Linked DNA regions of Homo sapiens: regions 1, 3 and 4 are each linked to region 2. Evidence: fine-mapped expression QTL. A gene starts in region 2. Each other region holds a variant in brackets. All regions are shown on one strand. Distances are from middle to middle. Region 1 has its middle 62 kb from the start of GFPT2. Region 2 holds the start of GFPT2 (glutamine-fructose-6-phosphate transaminase 2). Region 3 has its middle 70 kb from the start of GFPT2. Region 4 has its middle 20 kb from the start of GFPT2.

Region 1 (5,148 bases), 62 kb before region 2:
GTATTGACGGCCAAGCTTCAAAACCCCTGAAAACTCCCCCACTCTTGTGCCAACTTGGACAACACTCTTTTATGCACTCTTTTTTAGTTATCCCCACCTGCCCAGTTCCCTTATCAGGCCGAGATATTTTAACCAAATTGTATGCTTCCCTGACTATTCCTGGATTACAGCCGCATCTCATTGCCGCCCTTCTCCCCAACCCAAAGCCTCCTTCGCATCTTCCTCTCATATCCCCCAACCTTAACCCACAAGTATGGGACATCTCTACTCCTTCCCTGGCAACTGATCACATGCCCATTACCATCCCATTAAAACCTAATCACCCTCACCCCGCTCAACGCCCATATCCCATCCCACAGCATGCTTTAAAAGGATTAAAGCCTGTTACCACTCGCCTGCTACAGCATGGGCTTCTAAAACCTATAAACTCTCCTTACAATTCCCCCATTTTACCTGTCCAAAAACTGGATAAGTCTTACAGATTAGTTCAGGATCTGCGTCCTATCAACCAAATTGTTTTGCCATCCACCCTGTGGTGCCCAACCCGTACACTCTTTTGTCCTCAATCCGTTCCTCCACAATTCACTATTCTGTTCTCCACCTTAAAGATGCTTTTTTCACTATTCCCCTGCACCCCTCGTCCCAGCCTCTCTTTGCTTTCACTTAGACTGACCCTGACACCCATTAGGCTCAGCAAATTACCAAGGCTGTACTGCTGCAAAGCTTCACAGACAGCCCCCATTACTTCAATCAAGCCCAAATTTCTTCCTCATCTGTTACTTATCTCGGCATAATTCTCACAAAAACACACGTGCTTTCCCTGCCAATCGTGTCCGACTGATCTCTCAAACCCCAGCACCTTCTACAAAACAACAACTCCTTTCCTTCCTAGGCATGGTTAGCGTGGTCAGAATTCTTACACAAGAGCCAGGACCACACTCTGTAGCCTTTCTGTCCAAACAACTTGACCTTACTGTTTTAGCCTAGCCCTCATGTCTGCGTGCAGCGGCTGCTGCTGCTTTAATACTTTTAGAGGCCCTCAAAATCACAAACTTTATCAGTCCTCCAGGCCCAAGTTGACTCGTTAGCTGCAGTTGTCCTCCAAAACCGCCGAGGCCTTGACTGACTTACTGCTGAGAAAGGAGGACTCTGCATATTCTTAAATGAGGAGTGTTGTTTTTACCTAAATCAATCTGGCCTGGTGTATGACAACATAAAAAAACTCAAGGATAGAGCCCAAAAACTTGCCAACCAAGCAAGTAATTATGCTGAACCCCCTTGGGCACTCTCTAATTGGATGTCCTGGGTCCTCCCAATTCTTAGTCCTTTAATACCCATTTTTCTCCTCCTTTTATTTGGACCTTGTATCTTCCGTTTAGCTTCTCAATTCATCCAAAACCGTATCCAGGCCATCACCAATCATTCTATACGACAAACGTTTCTTCTAACATCCCCACAATGTCACCCCTTACCACAAGACCTCCCTTCAGCTTAATCTCTCCCACTCTAGGTTCCCACGCCGCCCCTAATCCCGCTCGAAGCAGCCCTGAGAAACATCGCCCATTCTCTCTCCATACCACCCCCCAAAAATTTTCGCCGCTCCAACACTTCAACACTATTTTGTTTTATTTGTCTTATTAATATAAGAAGGCAGGAATGTCAGGCCTCTGAGCCCAGGCCAGGCCATCGCATCCCCTGTGACTTGCAGGTATACATCCAGATGGCCTGAAGTAACTGAAGATCCACAAAAGAAGTAAAAACAGCCTTAACTGATGACATTCCACCATTGTGATTTGTTCCTGCCCCACCCTAACTGATCAATGTACTTTGTAATCTCCCCCACCCTTAAGAAGGTACTTTGTAGTCTCCCCCACCCTTAAGAAGGTTCTTTGTAATTCTCCCCACCCTTGAGAATGTACTTGGTGAGATCCACCCCTGCCCACCAGAGAACAACCCCCTTTGACTGTAATTTTCCATTACCTTCCCAAATCCTATAAAATGGCCCCACCCCTATCTCCCTTCGCTGACTCTCTTTTCGGACTCAGCCCACCTGCACCCAGGTGAAATAAACAGCTTTATTGCTCACACAAAGCCTGTTTGGTGGTCTCTTCACACGGACGTGTATGAAAGTCAGGAGTTCGAGACCAGCCTGGCCAACATGGTGAAACTCCGTCTCTACTAAAAATACAAAAATTAGCTGGGCGTGGTGGCGGGCACCTATAATCTCAGCTACTTGAGAGGCTGAGGCAGGAGAATTGCTGGAATCTAGGAGGCAGAGGTTTCAGTGAGCCGAGATCCCACCATCTCATTCCGGCTCGGGCGAGAACAGTGAGACTCCATCTCAAACAAAAACAAAAACAAAAACAAAAACAGAAATCCGCAGTTATTTGAATGGATGTTTCCATATTTATAGTGTGTCCTTTTTTTCTATTTTAAAGATATATTTCTTTATCATTAGTTTCAGTACATGATATGTGTGGGCATGGATTTCTTTAAGTTTATCCTGTTTGTGTTTTACTTAGCTTCTTACATTTGTAAGTTTATGGGTGTTTTTTTTTTTTGCCAAATTTGGGGAGTTTTCAGTCATTCTTTTTCAAAAATTTTTTCACACTCCTTTTCATTATTTCACCTTTTCTTTTGGAATTATGATGACATGAATATTGGGCCCTTTGATATATCTCACAGGCTTGAGGCTGTGTTCATTTTTTTCTACATTTTTGTTCTCTGTAGTCATCCAGTCATTTTAGTAATTTAGTTTGCTCTGTCTTCAAGTTCAGTAATTTTCTTCCCCAGTCTATTATTATTACTACAGACAGGGTCTTCCTCTGTCACCCAGGCTGAGTACAGTGGCCCAATCATAGCTCACTGCAGCCTTGAACTCCTGGGCTGGAGTGAGCCTCCCACCTCAGCCTCCCAAGTGGCTAGGACTACAGGTGCACACCATCACATCTGGCTAATTTTTAAATTTTTTGTAGACA[T/C]GAGGTCTTACTATGTTGCCCAGGCTGCTCTCAAATTCCTGGCCTCAAGAGATCCTCCTGCTTCAGTCTCCCAAAGCACTGGGATTATAAGTGTGAGCCACCACACCAGGCCTGGTTATAGTTTTTTTAAGTTTTAAAATTCCCATTGGGTTCTTTTTAATATCTTCTATTTCTCTGCTAAAAATTGCTATCTTTCCACTCCTTTCAAAGGGTTGTTTGCCCTAACTTCCTGGAACATGACTGTGATAGTTGCTTTAAAATCTTCTTCTAATAGCATCTGTGTCATCTCTGGGTTGGCATCTGTTGACTGTCTTTTCCCTTGAGAGTTGTCAAGATTTGCCCAGTTCTTCATATATTGAGCACTCTTGTGTCCTGGACATTTTGAATATTACATTCTGGAACTCTAAGTCTCGTTTAGCTCTAATGGAGAATGTTGAGATTTGTTTGCTTGTTTTAGCAATCAGGTGCTTCCCTGCTTTCTGAGTACTGTGATTCCAATCTCAGTTTACTTTTCAAAGCCTTCGCAGTGGTATTTATATTTGTCCTGCCTGTGCGGCACCCAGTGGCCAATCTGGGACCTGAATGGTGGTCTCCCCTGTAGCTTAGCTCTCAAAGCCATCAATCTGACGTTTAGGGTCAGATGCATACATGCACATGGCCAGCTAAGAGGTGAGTGCAAGAGTTCAGACAAAATTGTATATGTATCAGATGGATTTTTTAAAGCTTCTTCCTCTCTGTCATCTCTCCAACACGTTTTTGCATCCAGTCACCCCACCAACCCCAAAACTTCCTGAGTTTCTTTTCTTTTTTTTTTTTTTTGAGACGGAATCTTGCTCTGTCACCCAGGCTGGAGTGCAATGGCAGGATCTTGCCTTACTGCAACCTCCGCCTCCCGGATTCAAGCGATTCTCCTGCCTCAGCCTCCCAAGTAGCTGGGATTACAGGTGCCTGCCACCACGCTCAGCTAATTTTTTGTATTTTTAGTAGAGACGGGGTTTCACCATGTTGGCCATGGCTGGTCTTGAACTCTTGACCTCAGGCAATCCACCCGCCTCGGCCTCCCAAAGTGCTGGGATTACAGGCATGAGCCACCGTGCCCCGCCCCAAACTTCCTGAGTTTCTAACTCGAATGTTGGGACTTTCGTTTTCCAGCTCTGTCATGTACTTCTTCCCACTGTGTCTGCCTGTGGAGCCAGGCAGTGTGAGAACACAGAAAACAAAAGCTGTGGGGAGTCCCCCTATCCTCTTGGGACCACAGCTGTCTGGTTAGGAAGGGTTTTCCTCCCTCAGAGTTTCAGGTACCTTCCAGAGGCTACTGTTGCTGCAACGCTGTGAGACTGCCTGGAGGGCAGGGTGGAAGAGATGGAAGCAAGTAGATTTCCCCGACTCTCTGTTATACCTAGGGGCCCCCGTCTCCACTCTTTGCATCAAGGGCTTCTCTTAGAGCTCTTTCTGTTCACATCCAGCACTTACTTCTGGGCTTCAGGCAGCCTGTGAGTCTAGGCCAGGCAATACCAAAGGGAAACAAAAGAAGAGAGGAGTCTCAGGCTGGCTCAATGGCATTAGTGATCTGTTTTTCTGCCCAATTCCTATTATTTTTAAAAATAAACTTTTTTTTTTTTTTTTTTTTTTTTTGAGATGGAGTCTCGCTCAGCCGCCCAGGCTGGAGTACAGTGGCGCAATCTCGGCTCACTACAGCCTCCATCTCCGGGATTCAAGCGATTCTCCCATCTCAGCCTCCCGAGTAGCTGGGATTACAGGTGCATGCCACCATCATGCCCAGCTAATTTTTGTATTTTAGTAGCGATGGGGTTTCACCATGTTGGCCGGGCTAATCTTGAACTCCCTGACCTCAGGTGACCCGCCTGCCTCGGCCTCCCAAAGTGCTAGGATTACAGGCAAGAACCACGGCACCCGGCTAAAAATAGACTATTTTTCAAGAGAAGTTTTAGGCTCACAGCAAAATTGAATAGAAAGTACAGAGAATTCCTATATATCCCCTGCACCATTGCCACCCACCCCTCTGCACAGCTCCTCTGCTATTAACATCTTTCTTTTCTTTTTCTTTTTTTTTGTTGTTGTTGAGACGGAGTCTCGCTCTGTCGCCCAGGCTGGAGCACAGTGGTGCCATCTCCGCTCACTGCAAGCTCCACCTCCCGGGTTCACACCA
Region 2 (5,148 bases):
ATGGGTCTCCCTGTTGCCCAGGCTGGTCTCCAACTTCTGGCCTCAAGCAGTTCTCCCACCTCAGCCTCCCAAAGTGCTGGGATGACAGACCCAAGCCACTGTACCAGGCCAAGTTCATCTTTTCTGCTGGTTTCCCTCATGTGCTGGAGCAGGTCATCAACGTCCCAGCCTGGGCCATATGCTGACCTCTGAACCACTGCCCAGGCTGTGTGGCCAGGCCCAGGCCATCAACCTCCCAGATGACTCTCAGAGGGTTCTCAAAGCAGGAGTGATGCTAGGCCGGCAGCTGCTACAGACACATCCCCATGGGTGGTAGTGTGCACTCATGCCGTTCCTCACCGTGGACCTGTGACTCCTCCAGGAGGATAAAGGACAGATTTGGACCCTGCTAAGACCCCAGGGCTCCTGGGGTCTTGGTGCTATCAGAGGGCCTGTTGACATCACCCTGTCCCCGCCTCAGTTACAACAGTGGAGGCCAGTCTGGGCCAAACAACCTGATCTCCACATTCAAGTTCTAGCCCTCATCCAGGGGACCTTTGCACTGCCTGCTGCTCCCTCCTTCCTGGCTTCGCTAGGCTCTGGACCACCTGCACCAGCGCAGCCCTGCCCAGTCCCAGGCAGAGCCTGGCACCCTCTCCACCGCTGGCCCAGCCCCCTCCTTGTATCCTACCTGGAATTTTTAGCTCTCTGTGTAACCACGAGCTTAGTGTCTGCTTCCCCTTCACTTGTAAGTGCCAGGAGGGCAGGGCCAGATCTGTTCTCATTCATCAATAAGTCTCTTGCACCTGCACCCTGACAGGTGTGAAGTGGGTTCTTAGGAATGAGAGAAGGAAGGAAGGAAAGCGACCCTGCATAGTGGAGGGTTGGGGGCAAACGCTGCGGCTCCTGAATCGCTCTGAGATTTCCCAACAACAGGACTCACCCAAGCCCCCTCCTTCGCTGTCGTGGAGCCTCAGTTTTCCCAACCCTCCAATGGCACAACCTCCTTCCCCCAGGGCTTGCAGAGTCGCGGTGAAACTAGGGAGGGATTATGTTAGAAAAATGCTCTAGACGAGATGTAAAAATCTTTTTTTTTTTACACGACTGAGGAGGATCCGTTTAGAATTTCAGGATTTTTTTAAGAAAAAAAAAAACTTCAAAGTGCGCAAACGTTGGGCCGGTTCTCGTGACCTTCCTCGGGAGACGAGGGGCCCAGAGTGCAGGGGGAACGGGAGGGACGGCCGGGAACCAGGGCGGAGAAACGCGGGCCTTGGTGCCTCACTGGGGGGTCGGATTCCGACCCCAGGCGTAGGAACCCCCGGGTCCCTCGCGGGCCTGCAGCGCGAGGCAGATCTGGGGAGGGGGCAGCTCGGCGCGGGTGGGGTCGGGGCTTCCTGGGGCGCCTCCAGCTTCGTTCACAACCTGCGGAACCCTCGCCTTCAAGCTCGGGCTCCGCGGCAAATCCCAGGGTCGAATTCTGCCACCGCCGCGGCGTCCGGTTTTGGCAGAGTCCTTGTCTGCCTCCGGGAGCCTCGGTTTTCTCGTCTCTCCGCCAAGCCCGGGCGTTCTCTCCACGCAGGGTGAGGGCCAGGCTTAGAGGTCTGCGGAGCTCTGAAACAAGCCTGTCACTCAGATGGGAGCGCGGCAGGAACAGCGGCTCACGCGGGTTTCCGGAGCGCGCGAGTGATGCCGGACCCCTCGCTCTGCCCCTTACGCGGCCCGTCTGACTTCTCAGCACCCCGTGGGAGGGAGCTTCCCTGGGTAGCCCCGTTTCACAGACGGGAAAGCGGAGGCACAGCGCGATCGGGCCCTGCCCGGCTTCCACGCCTACTCTGGTTGAGTCGGGGTCTGAACTCGGGCCGTTGGTTGCCCTAAGCCCCGCTCCGGGATCTGGCGCCCGGCGCCCCAGCCTTACACGCCCGACCCGCGCCTGGGAGCCGCCCCTCGGCCCCCCTCCCTGGCTCCTGGGGGCCGGGTCCCGTCGTTGTCACGACAACCGGGGGCCAATGGGAGCAGGCGGGCGGGGGAAGCCCCGCCCCTTCCCCGCCCCCTTCCCCGCCCTCTCGGAGGGCTCCGGGTTATAAGGGCTGGAGGCCGAGCGGACGGGAGCTGGAGCCCGCGGAGCCCACGGAGCCCACGGAGCCCACGGAGGAGCCCACGGAGGAGCCCCAGCGTCCGAACGGGCAGACCCCCTCGAGCCGCGAAGGAGCCCGAGAAGCAGCCACGATGTGCGGTGAGTGCCGCGCCCGCCCGAGCCGCCTCCTCCACGCCGTCCGCGGGTCCCGGCGCCGCAGCCTCTCCGCGCCTCCGCCCGCAAGCAGGCGCCGAGGACCTGGCTGGGGGCGCCGATCTGCCCCGGGCCCCTACCGAGGGGCTGTCGTCGGCCGGGCCTGGCTGCCCCTCACCCGCGTTCCCCGAGTGGCCGTCTCGGAGGTGTGGGTGGGGGATGCCCAACCCGACTCCTGGTCTCGGACACAGTGAGGGGGACCGAGGCCCGGTCCCCACGGAGGGGAGGGACCTGGTCCGGTCCGGCCTGGACCCCGTAACAGAGGGGTCCCCACCCCATGCCGACCGAGGTCGCTCTCCTCCACGTCTCCCAGTCGCCCACAAAGGCGGCCACGCGCAGGCCGGCGCATCCCGAGTGCGGGGCGCCCATCCCGACTCAGCCCGCCGCGCCCACCGAGGAGAGGAGAGGCGACCCCGCCCCGCCGTCCCCGCAGCCCGCCCGGTCGCCCCCGCTGCGTCAGTGCCTCAGGCAGGGCCTGCGCGTCCTCCTCGCGACCCCAAAGGAACGTCTGGTCCCTAGAAGGGTCGCTGCCGCGTTACCGCCTCTTTGCGCGGGGAAGAGGCAGTCACTGCCCGAACCTCGGCCCGAAGCCACGAGAGGGAGTCCGGGGCGGGGAGCGGGGCCGGGCGTCCGATTCCCGCGGCGCTCCCGCGCTGTCCCGCGTGGCTGCGGGACCGTGGGGAGGGCGGCCGCGGCCCGGAGCGCACATCTGCAATTCTTTACTCTCCTGGCTGGGCCGCCTCCGCTGGCCGGGAGAGAGCCGGGAACTTCTGCTGGGACAAAAGGTCACTGTGCTCTTTTTTTTTTTTTTTTTTTTCCTTGAGTAGGATTCGGTTACCCATTCCAGCCTCCTGTGGCTGGAGGACCTGGAGGAACTTTCGAAGCCATGAAAGGCCTCTCTCTGACTTTGCTGAGGGCCGGGGTGGGGTGCGCCCGCGGTGAGCCCTGGCCGAGGTCTGTGCAGGCCTCTTGTCTCGGAGGCCAGCTGCTCGGCAGAAGGGAACGACCTACGGCGGAGCGGGCAGCGTGCTTCGGGATGCCGCCTCACCCAGGCTGAACAGGCATCCGTGGAAATTCCTGAACCCTCAGCTAAAATCTCGTGCTCCCAGACGCCATTCTCCATGTGTAGAGCCACCTTTGGGTGTTTCTGGGGGCAGAGATGAGGCAAAGGTGGTAGTTTTGCCAGATGTCCAAGCCCTGATGTTCCACACCTCTCAGTGTAGCATTCAAGACCCTTGGCCAAAACTGGTGGCCTTGGGGCCAGACTTGTGCAGGAGACCCTTGAACCAGGAGGGTCTGCCCACAGCACCAGAGGCTCCCCTTCCCCTTCCTTTCAGATGCTCCTCTGCCCCCACTGCCACCCCTGCCTGTCATCCTCCTTCCTACTGGCATCTTGCTTTTTCCCAAGTCTCTCTGAGCTTTGGGGGGGCTCTACCTCCTCCAGCTCACAAAATCACAAGTGTTTTTGTTCTGCTTCTTAAAGGGACACACACGCGTTGTCTCCTAGGGAAAGGTTGAGCTTTGGGGTGTGACCACCTGTATCTTCAGATTTTCTGGTACTGACTTGTGGTTGTATGTGAGAAGGAGCTTGAGGTCCCCAAAGGACACCCAGGGCTCAGGAGTGGCTGCGGTCCATGGGGGTGCCCACTCGGAGCCAGAATCAAAGAGTGCGTGCTGGCTTAGGTGCCTTCTCAGAATTCCCAGATTTGCTGATTTGGGGCTGGGGGCAGGGTGGGGGAAGTGGGGAGGGCACAGCTCAGCAGGAAGTCGTGGAATCCCTGCATGGGAAAGTTATTTCCTTTTCAAGAACATCAGGAGAAAGTTTCAACTTGGTGCTAACGTGTCCTTAACATCTCTCTGACACTTGCTTAAGTATCCTGTGCAGAGGGGAAGCCATTCCTGGCTCAGAGCAGGCAGCAGCAGCTGGCTAGAATTGAATACATTGGTCTGTTTGGGGGGGATGATGGTCTGAGTATGTATGACAAGTGATACTGATTTTCCTTTTATGGTTGTTTTCTTTTGGCATGAATTCATTTAAATTTTTGAAAATTTAATCAAATTCTGCAGAAGAAAAAGTAGTGATTATGCTATTAGTACAAGGATACTGCAAGAATCGTGAAGATGCTCCTAGAAAGAACCAGATAAGCTCTTCACTTTACGCTGGGGAAGCTGAGGCCCTGCGAAGTCTGTGCGCACCTGGCGTCTGAGCAGGCCTCGGGTCTCAGATCTCCTGGGCCGTTCCCTCAGGGGCGGAGACCTAAGGCCCTTCCTTATCACTTGGCTGATGACACTGCTGAGATTATGTCTTGCTGTCCTTTATCCTGCTGCTTCTCTCATGGGAAGCCAGGACTCGGCAGTAGTTGATCCTCTACAAACAGCAGATGATTCTCAAAAACTTTCAGTGCACTGAGAATTTAGCTGAAATGACACTTTGGTTTTATTGACATCTGAAAGTTGCTGGCATTTTGCTGACTTTCTGCGACAGAAAATTTACAATATTTCCTCCCTGTCTCTCTCCTTTCCTTCTCTGCTTCCTTTTTCATTCAGCCACTAGTGGAAATGCCCAGTGTTTTCCAGGCCCTGGGGGACTCGAAGATCTCATGGGTGTGGTCCTCCCCTCAAAGAAGGGGCAGGTGAGCCGCAGGGCTAGTCCAGAGACTGGTCACCAGCAGGGACGGGATGCCGATCAGGGCAGTGCTGCTGTGGAGGGAGGACCTTGAGCACGGGCTACAGCCTGGTAGAGTACTGGCCGAACAGGGAAGACAGACATCTTTTTGTTTGGTGCACAGGGTTTAAACCTTTTCCTCTATTAGTTACCAAAGTACAAAATTGGGAGATTTCACATAAGTAGGTGGGAGTTTTGGCTTCTCTTGACAAAATCT
Region 3 (5,148 bases), 70 kb before region 2:
TTATATATAATATGTACATTATATATTATATATTATATATATTATATATATATATAGGCCGGGCACAGTGGCTCACGCTTGTAATCCCAGGGCTTTGGGAGGCTGAGGTGGGTGGATCACCTGAGGTCAGGAGGTCAAAAGCAGCCTGGCCAACAGTGAAACCTCGTCTCTACTAAAAATACAAAAATTAGCCAGGCGTGGTGGTCGGTGCCTGTAATCCCAGCTACTCGGGAGGCTGAGACAGGAGAATTGCTTGAACCTGGGCGGTGGAGGTTGCAGTGAGCTGAGATAGCACCATTACACTCCCACCTGGGCAACAGAGTGAGACTCCATCTCAAAAAAAAAAAAAAAAAGAAAAAAAAAAAAGAAAGAAAGAAAGACATATTGTCTATAAATTTGAAAGCCTAGATTAAATGCACAAATTCCTTGGAAGCCACAGACATTAAAAATGACTCAAGAAGAAACAGATAACTTAAGTAGCACTTTGTTTATTAAAGAAATTAAATTCGTAGTTACAAACTCACCCACAAAGAAAACTCCAGGCCCTGGTGCTTTCACTGGGGAATTCTACCAAACATTTAAATAAGAAATAATAACGATTTTACACAAACAAATCCATAAAATTGAAGTGAAGAGAATATTTCCCAGCTATTTCTATGAGGCTGCTATTATGCTGATATCAAAACCGAAGACAAGGCTGGGCATGGTGGCGGGCACCTGTAATCCCAGCTACTTGGGAGGCCGAGACAGGAGAATTGCTTGAACCCAGGAGGCAGAGCTTGCAGTGAGCCAAGATACTGCGACTGAACTCCAGCGCGGGAGACAGAGTGAGACTCCATCTCAAAATAATAATAATTATCATCATCCAAAGACATTACAAGAAAAGAAAATTAAGGACTAAAATCTCTAATGAATATAGATGAATTTTTTAAAGAAAAGTTTATAAAGATTAACTTATAAAGATTAATACATTATGACCTATAGGGGTTTATCTCAAGAAGGCAAGTTTGGCTTAGCATTCATTCAAAAATCGAATAAAATATGTCATGTTTAGTGGGTTGACTAGTGTCCCTCAAAAATGTATGTTGGCTGGGCGCAGTGGCTCACGCCTGTAATCCCAGCACTTTGGGAGGCTGAGGCAGGTGGATCACCCGAGGTCGGGAGTTCGAGACCAGCCTGACCAACATGGAGAAACCCCATCTCTACTAAAAATACAAAATTAGCTGGTGTAGTGGCACATGCCTATAATCCCAGCCTCCCGAGGGAGGCTGAGGCAGAAGAATTGCTTGAACCCAGGAGGTGCAGATTACAGTGGGCAGAGATTGTGCCATTGCACTCCAGCCTGGGCAACAAGAACGAGACTCTGTCTCAAAAAAAAAAAAAAAAAACAACTGTGTGTCAGCCGGGCACAGTGACTCATGTCTGTAATTCCAGCACTTTGGGAGCCTGAGGTGGGAGGCTCGCTTGAGCCCGGAGTTTGAGATGAGCCTGGGAAACATAGTAAGATGCTGCCTCTACAAAAAATTTAAAAATTAGCTGTGTGTAGTGGTATGCACCCGTGGTCTTGGCTACCTGGGAGGCTGAGGCAGGTGGATTGCCTGAGTCCAGGACTTTGAGGCTGCAGTGAGCTGTGATCGTGCCACTGCCCTTCAGCCTAGACAACAGAGCGAGGCCATGTCTCAAAAAAAAAAAAAAAAAAAAAAAGGTCATTTCCACCCAGAACCTCAGAATGTGACCTTATTTGGAAATAGTCTTTTTAGATGTAATTAGTTAAGGATCTCAGATGAAACTGTCCGGAATTTAGGGTGGTCCCTAAGTCCAATGACTGGTGTCCTTGTAAGGAGAGAAGTGACCACAGAGGCAAACAAGAAGGGCCGTGTGAAGGTGAAGGCAGACAGAGATCAGCGCTGCGCCACCATTACCCAGGGAAGGCC[T/C]GGGGCCACCAGACGCTGGAAACAGCAGGCAGGTTCTTCCCTGGAGCTTTGAGTGAGCATGGCCCAGCTGGCACCTTGATTTCAGATTTCTAGCCTCCATAACCATGAGAGAATCAATTTTTGTGTTTTAAAGACACCAAGTTTGTGGTAATCTGTTACCATAGGAAACTAGTACACCATATTAAGAAACTAAAAAAGAAAAATCATATAATCACCTCAATCAATTAAAGAAAAAGCATTTGACAAAATCCAACATCTACTCCTGATAAAAAACAAGTTTCAGCAAACTAGGGAGCTTCCTCAACCTGGTAAAGAGCGTATGGAAAACCTCCAGCTAACATAATATTAATACTGAAAGGCTAAATACCTTTTCCTACAACCAGGAATGTGGCAAAAATATTCACCCTCACCACCTCCACTCAGGATTGCACTGGAGGCTCTAGCCAGTGCAGTCAGGCATAAAAAAGAAATAAAAGTCATCCAAATTGGGAAAGAAGAAAAAAACAATGGTTTTATTCACAGATGGCATGATCCCCTATGGAGAAACTATGATGAAATCTACAAACAAAACAAAACAAAAAAAAACCCTACTAGAATTCATAACTGGGTTTAGCAAGATTGCAGAGTTCGAAATAAATATACAAAATTAATTATATTTCTACATATCAGGATTGAAAAATGAGATATTGAAGTTAAAGATAAACATCATTTAAAATAGCATTAAAATATGACAAATCTGAGAAAATATGTGAAAGGCCTGTGTATTCACACTACAAACCATATCTGAGAAAAATTAAAGACTATCTAAATAAATGGGGAGATATACTTCACTCATGTGCTGGAAGATTCTCTATTGCTAAGATGTTTGCTCTACCAAAGTTAATCTACAGATTCAGTGCCATCTCAGTCATAATCCCAGGAAGCTATTTAGTGAAAATTGACTAGGTGATTCTAAAATTCTTATGGAAATGTGAAGGACCTACAACAGCCAAGATAGCTTTTGAGAACAATGAAGGACTAACCCATACCAGATTTCAGGACTTTTAAACTTACAATGATCCAGACAGTGTGGTTATCAGCCTGAAGATACCATCTTTTCAGTTATTTGAGAATTTTTTCATATTTCATTTTAATTTTTTTTTTTTGAGATGGAGTTTCTGTCTTGTCACCCAGGCTGGAGTGCAATGGCACCATCTCGGCTCACTGCAACCTCTGCCTCCCAGGTTCAAGCAATTCTCCTGCCTCAGCCTCCCGAGTAGCCGGAAGTACAGGCGTGCCCACCACGCCTGGGTAATTTTTGTATTTTTAGTAGAGATGGGGTTTCTCCAGGTTGGTCAGGCTGGTCTCGAACTCCTGACCTCAGGTGATCCACCTGCCTTGGCCTCCCAAAGTGCTGGGATTACAGGCGTGAGCCACTGCGCCTGGCCTCCATTTTAATTTATCTATATGCTTCTGACATATATCTTTTTTATTTTATTTATTTATTTATTTAGACAGAGTCTCGCTCTGTTGCCAAGCTGGAGTGTAGTGGTGCCATCTCGGCTCACTACAACCTCCACCTCCCAGGTTCAAGTGATTCTCCTGCCTCAGCCTCCCGAGTAGCTCTCGATCTTTTGACTTCCTGATCTGCCTGCCTCAGCCTGCCAAAGTGCTGGGATTACAGATGTGAGCCACCGCGCCCAGCCTGTTTCTGATATGTATCTTTGCATGTTTTTTAGTGATCACACTAGGGATTGTGATTTGTATATACAACTTTTCACTGTCTGCTCAGAATCAACATTTTGACTTTAAATAGAATACAAAGACCTTCACCACACCCTCTCCTTTTACACCGTAGTTGTCTTATGTGTTGTATCTATTTGCATTAGGAGCCCCACCAGGTAATGCTATAGTTTATTTATTATTTATATGTTATTTATTATTTCTATTTTATTATTTATATATTATTTATTTATTACTTGGTATTTTACTTTAAGTTCCAGGATTACCATTTGACCCAGCGATCCCATTACTGGGTATATACCCAAAGGATTATAAATCATTCTGTTATGAAGACACTTGCACACATGTGTGTCAGGCCTCTGAGCCCAGGCTAAGCCATCATATCCCCTGTGACCGGCACCTATACATCCAGATGGCCTGAAGCAACTGAAGATCCACAAAAGAAGTGAAAATAGCCTTAACTGATGACATTCCACCATTGTGATTTGTTTCTGTCCCAACCTAACTGATCAATGTACTTGGTAATCTCCCCCACCCTTAAGAAGGTTCTTTGTAATTCTCCCCACCCTTGAGAATGTACTTTGTGAGATCCACCCCCTGCCTGCAAAACATTGCTCCTAACACCACCGCCTATCCCAAAACCTATAAGAACCATGATAATCCACCACCCTTTGCTGACCCTTTTCGGACTCAGCCCGCCTGCACCCAGGTGAAATAAACAGCCTTGTTGCTGACACAAAGCCTGTTTGGTGGTCTCTTCACACGGACGCATGAAACAATATGTTTACTGCAGCACTACTTATAGTTTTTTATTATTTCTTTATTTATTTTTTGAGACGGAGTCTCTCTCTGTTGCTCAGGCTGGAGTGCAGTGGTGCGATCTTGGCTCACTGCAACCTCCACCTCCTGGATTCAAGCGATTTTCCTGCCTCAGCCTCCCGCTGAGTGGTAGGCGCCCGCCACCACTCCTAGCAAAATTTTATTTATTTATTTTTATTTTTTAGTAGAGACAGGGTTTCGTCATGTTGGCCAGGCTGGTCTTGAACTCCTGACCTCAGGTGATCCACCTGTCTCGGCCTCCCAAAGTGCTGGGATTACAGGTGTGAGCCACCGTGCCTGGACACTTTTTTATTTTTAACATCAAACATGTTTTAAAGTATTTTAAAGGACCTAATAGAAGAATAGCCTATGTATTTACCCATACATAGGTAAATGTTCTTCTTCCTTTATTCCTCCTGTTTCAAGTTTCCTTTTTATATAATTCCCCTTCCGTCTCAAAAAAATTCCTCTAAAATCTTTGAAAGGTAGGGTACCAGTGACAAATTATCTTAGTTTCTCTTCCTCTGAGAATGTCTTTATTTCACCTCATTCCTGGAGAATATTTTTACTAGATCTGAAATTCCATATTGAACCATTCTTTCCTTCCCACAATTTAACAATAGTCTTCCATTCTCTTCTGTGTGCCATGGTTTCTGATGTGAAATCCGCAGTT
Region 4 (5,148 bases), 20 kb before region 2:
TTCAGTCAGCCCACAGTCATTGACATGGACACACCCTATGGTCCCGCTGGATGTGATGTGCCGGCTGGAGAGGAGGGAGAGATGCTATCGGTCTGCGGGTTGGCTGATGGAAGCTTTGAAGGAACATGGCTGAAATGTTGGAATGTCCTGGCACACTGAGTCTGGAGACCTAGGGACGTAGGCATTTGGGACACTTCCTCCACTGTGGATGCCCTTGAGTGGGTATTCACGGAAGCTGCCAATATCATCATGCTGTGCCCATTACAAGTGCCCCAGCCACACGACTTGCCTCCAGACCACCTGGCCCCCAAATTTCCAATCTCATTCTTTCCGGATCCTGCCCAGGCAATCAAGCTGTTTGCCACTGCCCCTGAGTCTGGGTATTTGTAGTGAGATTTTCACCCCAGGTCTCCCAGCAAAGCAAAGGCTTGGGCAGCCATGTTCTGACCTGTTGTTTCTCTCCTATGCCGTGTTAAAAACATGCTATCACATGTGAAAAACATGGGTGGTGGCTAACATTTTCGGTTTCCAGTAGGACCAAACCAAGGAGCCAACCCCACCCCACAATGACACTACGGCTCAGGGTTTAGCAAACTATGAACCCGATTTGCTCTGCCATCTGCTTTTGTAAACAAAGTTTTATTGGGACACAGCCACACTCATTCGCGTATGGATTGTCCACGGCCACAGCCAAGCTGAGTTGCAACAAAGATGATATGGCTCACAAAACTTCAGTATTTACTATCCGATACTTTCTGGAAAAAGTCGCCAACCCTGCTGTTGCTATCAGGAATTACTGTACCCCTCTTTGGTGACATAAAGTTTTACCTGAATGAACTGGGTGCTGAGGAGAGAAGGGGTGAGCTGTTTTGGAGATCTTCCATCTACCTTTCCTGACCCACCCTCCACTTTTCTCCATCCTGTTCTGTATTCCAGGAGGCTGGTTATGGGTCACATGGAAAGGGCTCTTTTTTCTTGTCACTTCGAGTGGGGTTCAGCCCAAGGGAGGTGTTTAGCAGAAGACTGGAGGGAGAGAGAAGAAGAAAATCCTTCCTGCAGGGCCTCCTGCGTCCCACAGCCGAAGGTCACAGCTTCTATCAGACAAACTCCACACAGCCCTTTCAGCCTCAGAGTTCCAGAAACTTCTCTCTCCCATTGCTCCTTCTGGCCTAGAAACAGTAACGGTTCCCTGCTGTTACTAGCACCAGAGTACTGCCTGTGTTCTCCTCACACCCTGTCCTCACCTTCACACACCTTCTACTAACATCTTCTCAAACTACCTATTTTGAGGGTGCCACCTGTATCCTGCAGGAATATAAAATGTAACTGCTTATTTTTTTCTATAACTATTTTTTTTCGGAGATAAGAGTCTCACTCTGTTGCCCAGGCTCAAGGGCAGTGGCTTGATCATAACTCATTGCAACCTCAAACTCCTAACTGAAGCAATTCTCCTGCCTCAGTCTCCTGAGTAGCTGGGACTACAGGCATGTGCCACCATGCCCAGCTCATTTTTCATTTTTGTAGAAATGGGATCTTGCTGTGTTGCCCAGGATGATCTCAAACTCCCAGGCTCAAGTGATTCTCCTGCCTCGGCCTCCCAATGTGCTGAGATTACGGGCATGAGCCAGCATAACTAAGCCTACAACTAAGTTTAATTTGAATTTTGTGCCCCATTCCACCAGGATGGAGTTCAATTTCAGTTTTCTGGTTATCTCCATTAGTTCAGGGTTTCACACACACATGCGTCACACATATCTGCCCCTGCCTTCTCTGGGATTTCGTGAGAATAAAGTGGCCTCACAACTGATTTGTGGGGTACAGTCCCAGCTTACTTCTGTTGTCTTGGCATGGTTACAAACAACACACCTCTTTACTCTCAGAGTCCCTGGTTTAGACAG[G/T]AAATTATGCGGTGACCCTATGTAGAAAGCACTAGGTTGGTCTGGGGGACGATCTTGTTCTCTGTTCGTAATATCCAGCTGGCACCAGCCACAATGGCCCTTATCTAGTCTGGCCCTGAGTTTTCAGTCCTCAAAGTTTCCAGCAGCCTCCTCCTCCTCTCCTGACCACAGAGCCTGCCCCATTCTGTCCTCCTCAGCTTCTTCCGCCTCCTCGGCTCTAGGCACTTGGCATATATCAGTGAACAAAACAGAAAAGAAAAAAAAAAAAAAAGCCCTGCTTGCAAGGAGTTTTCTTCTTTTATATTTTCTAAAAGATGTTTTTAGGCTATGAACTTTCCTGTGAATACCACTGTGTATGCATCCCGCACCTTATAGGTTTTAATATACACGTTCTTACACAGTTTCAGTTCTTTTTTTTTTTTTTTTTTTTTTGAGTTGTAGTCTCGCTTTGTCGCCCAGGCTAGAGTGCAGTGGCGCGATCTCGGCTCACTGCAAGCTCCGCCTCCCGGGTTCACACCATTCTCCTGCCTCAGCCTCCCGAGTAGCTGGGACTACAGGCGCCCTTCACCACGCCCGGCTAATTTTTTGTATTTTTAGTAGGACGGGGTTTCACCACATTAGCCAGGATGGTGTCCATCTCCTGACCTCATGATCCGTCCACCTCGGCCTCCCAGAGTCCTGGGATTACAGGCATGAGCCACCGCGCCTGGCCCACAGTTTCAGTTCTAATGTCCTCTTCTGCTCTAGGCTTATTTTTTTTTCTTTTTTCTTTTTTTTTTTTTTTTGGTTTTTTTTTTTTTTTTTTTGAGACAGAGTTTTGCTCTTGTTGCCCAGGCTGGAAAGCAGTGGCATGATCTCGGCTCACTCCAAGTTCCGTCTCCTGGGTTCAAGTGATTCTCCTGCCTCAGCCTCCTGAGTAGCTGGGACTACAGGCACACGCCACCACGCCCAGCTAATTTTGTATTTTTAGTAGAGACGGGGTTTCACCATGTTGGCCAGGATGGTCTCGATTTCTTGACCTCGTGATCCACCTGCCTCGGCCTCCCAAAGTGCTGGGATTACAGGCGTGAGCCACCACGCCTGGCAGAGATTTTTTTTTTTTAATTATCCTCTTATTGTAACCAGAAAAATATTTTTGCTTGATTTCTATTTTTTTTGAAAATACTTAAATTTACTATAGAATTTTATGAACATTCCTGTTACCTTCTCTTATGTTATCCTCACAAGTTATTGAGCTGGAGTATAATTCCCATTTCACATGTGAGTCCACATGTCTGGAGAGAGCTGAGCTAGCAATGAAGAGCCTTGGGATCAGAGCAGAGATCCAAACCCTAACCCAGCAGGCTCAAAGCAGCCCTGTTCCCTGCCATGAGAGGGTTCCAGGTATGGAGGCCATGCCTGGGAGGCCACAGAAATGGAGCTCTCTGGGGGAAGCGCCTGCTGGGCAGTTGCTTCTCAGCCCAGGCCTGAGCTTTGCACCGTCTCAGTGGTTGGTAGCGGAGGAATGAGGCTGTGCAGTCGCCCTCTCAGGCCCAGTAAGACACCTGATTGCCTCTGCCCAACCCCACTCCTCAGATCCCAGGGGCAGCCCTGGCCCCCCAGCTTGTCCCTTCCTCTAGGAGGGAGGTTACTAAGGCCCTGCTCGCCCAGCCAGGGTCCTCCCAGAGGGAGCTGGAAACAGGATGGAAGCTTGGCTAAGGCCTGGTGATGGAAGCTGCGGCTTGGCCTGCAAGGGGGCACCCCAGGGGCACTGGGCAGGGTCTGGGCGTCAGGCAAGTAGCCAGGTTGAATTAGGTGACTGCTGTCAACGGAGCAGTCAGGAAGGCTTCTCTGAAGTGGGGACAAGAGCCACCTGGGAAGGGAGGAAGCCTTCAGGCCGGGGAAACAGCAACCGCCAAGGCCTGGAAGAGGAGCAGCAGTTTCTTGTGCTATCCACTTTCCCTGCCATTAGAGAATGGAGCTCACATACCACTCGTGGCCCTGGAGATCACACATGCCCGGCCTCCAGCTCCCCCTTTGCGTGCGCACACACACACGCAAAACCTCTCACACCACGACTCCAGGATACGGTGGGCCCCTCTGAAAGCATCCCTAAGTGGGCCGCAGGCAAGTTTAGGGGGTGCCGGAGCTCATGCCAAAGCCCGGAGTGCAGTCCCACCTGAAGGCAGGAGTCCGCACCAGCTGGTGGCCTGGAGCTCATGCCAAAGCCCGGAGTGCAGCTCCACCTGAAGGCAGGAGTCCGCACCAGCTGGTGGCCACCTCGAGGGCCCTTGACCTGCCGGATGATCCACACAAGGCGCCCAGCCTCTCGGGCCCCTCTCCCATCTGTCCAGTGGGTGGATTGGTCCAAAGGCCTGAGACTCTCTGTAGCCCCACCACTGTCTGACTCACTCGCGATCTGAAAACAGGCAGCACACAGCTCATTTTCCTCATCCGATGACAAGACAATTTCCCAAAATCCCTTTTAGCTGGGAGGGGTGACAGAAAGGCCATCTGGCCAACACCCATCCTTGCAGCCAGTGATCATTTATTTCCCAGCTGTGTGTTCTGAAGAAAATAATGAAGGCTCTGAATGCCACCGCCAGGGTGGCTTTGCAGCTGTTCTTGGCAGTGACCCCGCTGCAGAACCCCCACTGACGGAGCGTCCTTCCCCAGCTTGAGCCGCACCCATCGGACTCCACCAGGGACACTTGAGTTTAGCTCACAGGGAACCAGAAGCAGCTGCCCCTCCCCATGGACAGCCTGCCCCTCCCTGAGCTGTGGCTCTGGGACCTTCTCTGGCCTGGCCCCTGCCCTGCCTGCAGGCTTCCTCACTGTCCTCTGAGCATGCACGCTGTGCCACGCAGTTTGCAGAGCCTGTTCTCTTCTGTCCTCATGACTGCCTGGGAGCTAGGCCTTCCCAGCCCCGTTTTACAGATGAGGAAATCAAGGCTCCAGGAGATGTGGGGGCTTGCCCAAAGTCACAGGCCAGCAGGAGCAGGCACCTGAGTGCAGATCAGGCCTCCTGGCACGGGTTCCTCTGCATCTTCCCCGTCCCCGCCCTCCACCTCTTCCCATCCAGGTCCCCCGACTCTGACCAGCCTCCAGCCCAGCTCCTTCTCTAAGCCCCAGATACATATCCAAGTGCCCATGTACCTCTCCACTGCAGAATGGGGTGTCCACTGGCACCTATCCAACCAGGCGCAACCATGTTCCTCACCTCCCCAGCCTGCTGCTGCCTTTGTTCTGAAAGCCAGCCTCGGCGCTCCTG

What was found.
Region 1: its variant is fine-mapped to the expression of GFPT2 in lung (TOPMed, PIP 0.98).
Region 3: its variant is fine-mapped to the expression of GFPT2 in cerebellar hemisphere (GTEx, PIP above 0.99). The same link has a PIP of 0.9 or more in cerebellum.
Region 4: its variant is fine-mapped to the expression of GFPT2 in whole blood (TOPMed, PIP 0.94).

What each region holds. Positions count from the first base shown.
Region 1 is chr5:180,412,667-180,417,814 of GRCh38, reverse strand. No RefSeq gene overlaps it. Among named protein-coding and RNA genes, the nearest start is that of GFPT2, 62 kb to the right of the region's middle. The variant T/C (reference allele first, on the strand shown) is at 2,979.
Region 2 is chr5:180,350,275-180,355,422 of GRCh38, reverse strand. It overlaps GFPT2 (glutamine-fructose-6-phosphate transaminase 2), which reads left to right and starts at 2,087. Exons shown (of 19, transcript NM_005110.4): 1 at 2,087-2,212. The coding sequence starts at 2,206. RefSeq lists a silencer at 1,831-2,060 and an enhancer at 3,433-3,933.
Region 3 is chr5:180,420,589-180,425,736 of GRCh38, reverse strand. No RefSeq gene overlaps it. Among named protein-coding and RNA genes, the nearest start is that of GFPT2, 70 kb to the right of the region's middle. RefSeq lists an enhancer at 1,397-1,896. The variant T/C (reference allele first, on the strand shown) is at 1,935.
Region 4 is chr5:180,370,398-180,375,545 of GRCh38, reverse strand. No RefSeq gene overlaps it. Among named protein-coding and RNA genes, the nearest start is that of GFPT2, 20 kb to the right of the region's middle. RefSeq lists an enhancer at 4,774-5,148. The variant G/T (reference allele first, on the strand shown) is at 1,899.